Linked DNA regions of Homo sapiens. The protein of the gene in region 1 purifies or fractionates together with the protein of each later gene. This does not show direct contact. Each region holds a gene or a part of one and is shown on either strand. Other genes may lie near its edges.

Region 1 (3,651 bases):
CATTCAGTCGGGCGGCCGGGTGTCGGGGGCCTTCTCCTGGACTTCATCATACTGCGGTGGAGGAGTCAAAGGCTCTATCGAGGGAGGAGGGACGTTTTTGTCTGGGAGGTTGATCCTAAAGTCTTTGAGGTGAAGCTTTTCAGATTTAATCCTTCGAACTTTCAGCGGTTTCAGTCGTTTGGCCAACTTAGAGTTCTGCCTGTCAGGGGGGTTCCCAGGGCTGGCCTCCACGTCAGCCCTGGTGGATGTGGGGGTGGTCTCGTCGAGCCCCGTCAGTGACTCATAGGACGGGAGAGAGATGCTCAACCTCGGGTTCTGCTCCTCTCCCCTTGCTTCTGAGTAGTTTGTGTTCATCACTTCCTCGTAGCTGGGAACATAGTACCTTGAGGCAGCCTCCTCATCCTCCTCTTCTTCCTCCTGGCTGCAAGAAGACACACAGACAGGGAGAGTGTTAGCCTGTGCTCAAGTCATTCAAAATCCCAAAGGGATGGGCTCCAAAGAGTCCACACACAGCAGCCTTGTAAATAACAAATGGGTCTTAGAGGCAATAAAAGTGAATACTTCAAGTGTTTACTATGAGCTGGGCTCCCTTCTAAGTATTTTAGCAAATATGAACCAATTTCAGATTCCTGACAACACTATGAGTTAAGTACTAGTCATGCAGGACAGGACAGGTGAGTCCCCAAATTGGGGCTTAGCCTGGGAGGGTTCTTGGCTTCATCAAGGAAGGAATTCAAGGGTGAGCCAGTGGTGTTAGACCACAATTCTTTATTGAAGGGCACTGCTTCTTGTGGAGCAGGGCTAACTCATAGGCAGTACACCCTGAGTTGGCCACATAGGGGCTCTTGGAAATTGTATTTATACCCACTTTTAGTCACATGCAAATTAAGGGGTGGGTTAATGCAAATTGAGGGGCAAGCTATTTAAGACTTCCTAGGAAAGGTAACTTCTGGGTCGTTACCATGGAAAGGGATGGTAACTGCCAGGTCGTTGTCATGGCAATTGTAAACTGTCATGGCACTGGTGAGAGTGTCCCATGCTGATGAGCAATGAGGGCAGCCAGGGATCACCCTCGTTCCCGTTTGCTGGCTTTGGCTAGTGTTTTTTTAAACCTTATCTCATCTGGACCACATCCTGTTTTGGTCAGCAGGGTTATGATCAGAAAACAAGTCCTGCCTGTTTTCTATCTCACTATTATTATAATACCCAATTTATAGATGGACTGAGATACATCAAGATTAAATGACTTGGTCAGACCTTCAGGAAATGGGAGGGCAGGAAGTGAACACTGTACTCTCAACTACTCCACCATGTTATCTGGGTGTTAAACCTCCTTTGCCTTTAAGCCTTTCCCACTTAGCGACATGCTGCGTGAGCTATTCCAATGCTCAGCTGGGTCCTTTGGTCAAAGGCAACACAGAAATGTACAAAGTTGCTACCAACTTTCAGTAGAGAAAGAATATCTGAAATATAACATTTATGTGTGTCTCAAATTATTCTGTAATTTTATCTTCCAAGTTTATCCCAAGACTCAAAAAGATCAGGTCCTCTCAGCCTTATTCTCATTTGACTGTTGAAAGAGAAAACCAAAAAGTCAGGATATTTTCTACACATTTGTCAGAATTAACGCCAATAGCCACTTTCCAGGACTCTATACTTGAACCTGTGGGGTGATCATGGCCAACATCAGAAACCTCAAAGTCTGCCTTGGTTTTCCTCCCACCCTCCTTTAGGAATGAACTCAAATGTGCTCACAGCTAGGGTGGGGAATGATGAGTGATTGATATTTGTTCTTTTCTATATTTCTCAAGTTTTCTAGAATAAGCATGTGTGATGGTTAATTTTAGGTGTCAACCTGACTGGCCATGGTTGCCCATATTAAACACTGTGAGAGTGAGGGTGTTTCTGGAAGATACTAGCATTCAGCTCGGTGGGCTCTGTAAGGCAGATTCCCCTCCTCAGTGTGGTGGCACCATCCAACCCATGGAGGCCCTAGATAGACCCAAAGTCAGAGCAAGCAGGAATTTGACTCATTTCTCCCTGCCTCACTGCTTGAGCTGGGACATCTCATTTCATCTTCTCCTGCTCTCAGACTAGGATCTATACCCTCACCTCTCCTCGTTCTCAATCAGGCCTTCAAACTCAGAATGAATTATACCCCTTGCTTTCCTGGGTCTGCAGCTTACAGATGGCAAATTGTGGGACTTTTTGGCTTCCATGATCCCAGGAACTAATTCCTCATAATAAATCTCCATTTAAAAAAATATATATCCCCCTGGTTCTGTGTCTCTGGAGAACCCTGACCAATACAGCATATATTATTCTTTGCTATCAGAAAATGAGTTTAATTTGGAAATTGTATTTGTACCCACTTACACCCACTTTCAATTATGTGCAAAAGTAAGAAGTGGGTTAATGTAAATTGAAGGGCAAGCTATTTAGAACATTCTAGGAAAGGGATGGTAACTTCCAGGTCATTACCATGGAAAGGGGTGGTAACTGGTAACATTGGAGGGCAGAAATCCCTTCAATATAATGAGATTTTTTTTTCTTCTGGTGTGTACCCACAAGTGGCATTGCTGAATCATTTGGCAGCTCAATTTTGAGTTTTTTGAAGAAACTCTAAACTTCTCCACAGTGGTTGCACTAATTTACATTCCCACCATTAGTGTACCAAGGGTTCCCTTTAATCCATATTACATTAAGAACAATTCCCTTCCCACTATAAAGATAAGAAATGCTTGTAGAAAATTCAAACAACACAGAAACATCTAATGAAGAAAAGAAAAACATCCCGAATCCTTCTACCTGGAGACAAACCACTGTAACATTCTGGTGTATACCTTTCCTACCCCTCTCCAATCCCACAGCCACAACATTTGATGGGACCATAACCTGACCAAAGATGCTGTATTATATCCCCCTTTTCTCATTGTTGTGGATATGGTCCCACATTAACAAATATAGATCAACAGTTGCTGCATAGAACTCCATTGAATAGGTACGTCATTTAACTCAGTAGGTGGTTTTTTAGGTTGTTTCTAAGTTTTTGTTATCCTAAACAATGATCTGATAAATATACTGGTACAAACTCCTTTGCACCTGTGGGACTGTCTCCCAGGGATAAACTCTTATAAATAGGATCAATACGCACATCTTCAGTACTGCCCCTTATGGTGAAACTCTTAAGAAAGTTTCTATCAGTCAACATTTCATCAGCAATCCATCTTCCCTACAACTCTCCAACAGTAGGGGCTGTCTATCTTGATCAATATGATAGGCAAAAAAAAGAAAAGACATCTTTTTGCTTGCATTTCATGACTAATGAAGTTGAACATCTATTGGTTGAACATCTATGGAATATTCATAATCTTTGTCTGTTTCCTATTGGTATATTCATCTTACATATTCATTTCTAAGAGCTCTTTTTATAATAGGGATATCAACTATTATCATATCTTCCCCAATGTATCACTTATCTTTTAAATTTGTTGGTGGCATTTTTGCTCAAATGGAAAATTGCTTCCCAGCCATTTCAAATTAAAGCATACACACAGCATGCTGGGGTGAAGGGACAAGCAAATATGCTGGCCACCCCAGGCCCTGTTCAGTGACCCTGGGCGGGTCAAAATGCTGGTTCACTTAAGAGTA
Region 2 (3,751 bases), on another chromosome or scaffold:
TGTGGTGGTGCACACCTGTAGTCCCAGCTGCTCAGGAGGCTGAGGCAGGAGGATCCCTTGAGCCCAGGAGTTCAAGGCTGCAGTGAGCTATGACTGCACCACTGAAATCCATCCTGGGCAACAGAGCCATTTCAAAATAATAATAATAATAATTGATGACAGTGTAATATGGTTGGGGTTCAGAAAATGATACCCCAAAATGAAGGCCTTAGAAGCAGCTCTCTCTAACCTCATGTCCTCCTGCCTCTGGCCCCTCATTCTAGAAACTGGAATCCCTCTTCCCCAAGGTGATTCACAGAAGCCAGAACCCCTCATCCCCAAAGCCAAGCATAAAACCTAAAAGTTTGACTCTGCGTGTCCCCTGCCTTTCTGTGTCAAAACTGGCGGTAAAGAAATTCTCTGCCCTGCTTTGTTTGACTGTAGGTCATAAGACCCCCATTCCAGAAAGGATCCTGCTCTATACCCAGAAGGAAGGAACACTGCACAGAAAAGCCAAAAAGAATCTAAACAGACAGGGCTTGCTCACTTAGTCTATTGGCATTAGCTCAGACCCTTTTTATGCCATCGTAGTATCTCTTAGGTTGGTGCAGAAGTAATTGCGGTTTTTGCCATTAAAAACCGCAATTACTTTTGCACCAGCTGAATACATGGCGGTCCATACTTTATTGAACCTAAGCGAAAAAATGGACCGTTTCCCCTGCATCTTTGGGTTTTCATTCTGAAGGCTCCCGGATCACATAAAGTTACGATCTAGTATATTTGTATGCCTTTTCTACTGTGAAACTGTCTTTTGTCAGTTGATTTTCAGCAAACTTTCAGAGGACGAAGGAGAGGTTTGCCCTTGGCCCCCTACAATACCTAAAGGTATGACTCTTTACTGTGGCAGCTGCTCCAAGCATCATGTTTTGCCAACAGACTCACACATACTAAGTTTATTTCAGTCACAGCAAGTACCAGGGCCAGTTCAAGTGCTCTAGCACGGCACTCTAATTCTAAAGAGAAGGAAACGCGGCACCGGGGCAGGAAACAGTGACAAGTGGGAACACAAAAACCAAAGTTCTCCGTATGCAGCATGAGGATCCAGAACCCACTGTGACATCAAATTGCCAGAGCACCACCTCCGATTTATTCTTGGGGAAAACCAAAAGAGCTACGGAATGCTCCCTTGTTCCAGACTGTTCTATGGAGAACTGGGATCTGGGGAAAATGCAACAGTTTCTTTCCGTTTGGGGATCTAGCCCCGAATTTTTTTCATTCAGCCAAACTACCGACAGTCAGACAGCGCCTGCAGGAGGGTGTGGCCAGGCAAAAACGCGGGGAACGGCCCCGGACCAGGGTGGGGCGTGGCAAGGGTTTGAAGGGCGTGTCCTACGAAGAGGTAGGGCTTGGCAAGGACCCACGGGGCGTGTCCTAGGACTCGGTGAGGGCGTGACCTCGGGCCAGGGGCGGGGAGAGAACCAGAGGGCGAAGTGGGAGGGCACAGGGGAGACTAAAAAGGCCAGGGAAGTTGGCCTGCCGGAAGTTCCCAGGGAGAAGGCAGCGCGTTGTACCCGAGGTAAGGCTTCTTGGAGTCAGAGCAGGAGCCGGAACTGTGGGCCCAGTAGGAAGAGTGGGGCCCGACGGCGGAGGCCGCGCGGCCAGGGTTCGCTGCAGAGCTCCACGCGAGGGTCCTGCCGGAAGGAAGGATTTTCTAGCCGCTGCGCTTGGGCCCTGCCGCCTCTCCTTAAGTGCTTGAGGGACGTTGCAAAGAGCGCCAGTCCCGTGTGGCGCCAGCTCCCTGTGGCTCGACAGCAATGCCCGGGGGCGTCATCGGGTAGCTGTGCTAAGCCTCCTTTAATAAGCTTTTTTTTTTTTTTTTTTTTAGATTCAGGGTCTGGCTCTGCTTCCCAGGCTAGAGTGCATTTGGCGCGATCACAGCTCACTGCAGCCTCGACCTCCTGAGCTCAAGCGAACTTCCTGCCTCAGCCTCCTGAGCTTCCTGAGTAGCTGCGACTACAGGCACGTGCCACCATGTCCGGTTATTTTTGTATTTTTTGTAGAGAGTGTCTCGCCATGTTGCCCAGGCTGGTTTCGAACTCCTGGGCTCAATCAGTCTGCTGCCTCGGCCTCCCAAAGTGCTGGCATTACAGGTCTATATTTTTTGACAGTTTATAAAAGCCAATTACCAGCGGTCATATGTCTGAGTCCTGTGCACTCTTGCTTAATCCACTCTGCAGCCCTGTGAAGGATTCTAGTGATAACGACAAAGCTAAGGTACAGAAAAATTAGGCCACACTGCTGGAAAGTTTAGAGATGGAAACAAAGTTTAGAGGTGGAGTCTTTCTGACTCCACAGCCAGTGTGCTGTTACTCTCTTAGACTACCTCATTCTTTGTACATCCCAAGTCAACAGGAACTAAAGGTATACCCTTACATAGGCAGTAAGAGGGGTTGCTGATTTAAAGAACTTTGGACCCAGAAAGAGTAGAGCCCTATTCTAGTTCTGGTTCCAGCTCAGTGACTTTCTACAAGTTGGTTTTCTTTTGCTTTTTTTAAAGACAGAGTCTCGCCCTTGCCCAGGCTGGAGTGCAGTGGTGCGATCTCGGCTCACTGCAACCTCCGCCTCCCGGGATCAAGCGATTCTCTTGCCTCAGCCTTCTGAGTGGCTGGGACTACAGGCGCGCTCCACCACACACAGCTAATTTTTGTATTTTTAGTAGAGACGGGGTTTCACCATACTGGCCAGGCTGATCTCGAACTCCTGACCTTGTGATTCACCCACCTCGGCCTCCTAAAGTGCTGGGATTACAGGCGTAAGCCACCGCGCCCGGCCTCTTGCTTTTTAAGACTAGGTCTCATTATTTCACCAAAGCTGGAGTGCAGTGGTGCTATCACAGCTCACTGCAACCTTCACTTCCCCCGTTCAAGTGATCCTCCCAGCTCAGTCTCCCACAGGTGCACACCACCACGCCCGGCTAGTTTTTATTTTCTGTTTTTTGTTTTTTTTTTTGTATTTTTGGTAGAGACGGGGTTTTGCCATTTTGTCCAGGTTGGTGTCAAACTCCTGGGCTCAAATGATCTGGCTGCCTCGGCCTCCCAAAGTGCTAGGATTACAGGCGTGAGCCACTGCGCCTGGCCTGCCTGTTTTCTAGACACATTAAGGTGAGTGGTCTCAGGCCAGGCGCGGTGGCTCACACCTGTAATCCCGGCACTTTGGGAGGCTGAGGCAGGTGGATCACTTGAGGCCAGGAGTTCGAGACCAGCCTGGCCAACATGTGAAACCTCTTTTCTTCAAAAAATTAGCTGGGCATGGTGGTGGGCATGCCTGTAATCCCAGCTACTGGAGAGGCTGAGGCACGAGAATTGCTTGAACCTGGGAGGCAGAGGCGGCTGTGAGCTGAGATCACACCACTGCACTCCAGCCTGGGTGTCAGAGCAAGACTCTGTCTCAAAAAAAAAAAAAAAAAAGGTAAGTGGTCTCTAGGTCGCTAGTGGATGTAATAATCTATGGATTTATGAGGATAAGATCCTGATTTTACCATTTAATGATATTTTGGGCCAGTTTTTTTCCTTTTTAATTGGGCAGCCCTCAAACCAGAATAGATTGAGAGGGTCTTCCAGTTTTGGGTCATATTTGCTGCTGAAATTACAAGGTAGTCAGGAAGGGTCTGTTTATTCAATCAAAGATCAATAAATGTGTATTTTGGAGGTCAGTAGCGGAGTATCCAGCCAGAAGGTGGCTAGTGAGACAGGAGGAAAATCAGGACAGTGGC

The links.
Region 2: the proteins of TMEM51 (region 1) and PTER purify together in Homo sapiens (affinity purification with mass spectrometry; 3 studies listed by BioGRID and IntAct, with this or other methods). This does not show direct contact.

Annotation. Positions count from the first base shown.
Region 1 is NC_000001.11:15,216,096-15,219,746, reverse strand, and holds part of TMEM51 (transmembrane protein 51), read right to left. Parts: intron 422-3,651; coding exon 4-421; 3' UTR 1-3.
Region 2 is NC_000010.11:16,435,493-16,439,243, forward strand, and holds the start of PTER (N-acetyltaurine hydrolase), read left to right. Parts: upstream 1-1,517; 5' UTR 1,518-1,555; intron 1,556-1,864; exon of another isoform or gene 1,865-2,175; coding exon of another isoform or gene 2,176-2,253; intron 2,254-3,751. UniProt on the Homo sapiens protein: N-acetyltaurine hydrolase that regulates feeding by catalyzing the hydrolysis of N-acetyltaurine into taurine and acetate. N-acetyltaurine has anorexigenic and anti-obesity effects that are dependent on GFRAL receptor and GDF15.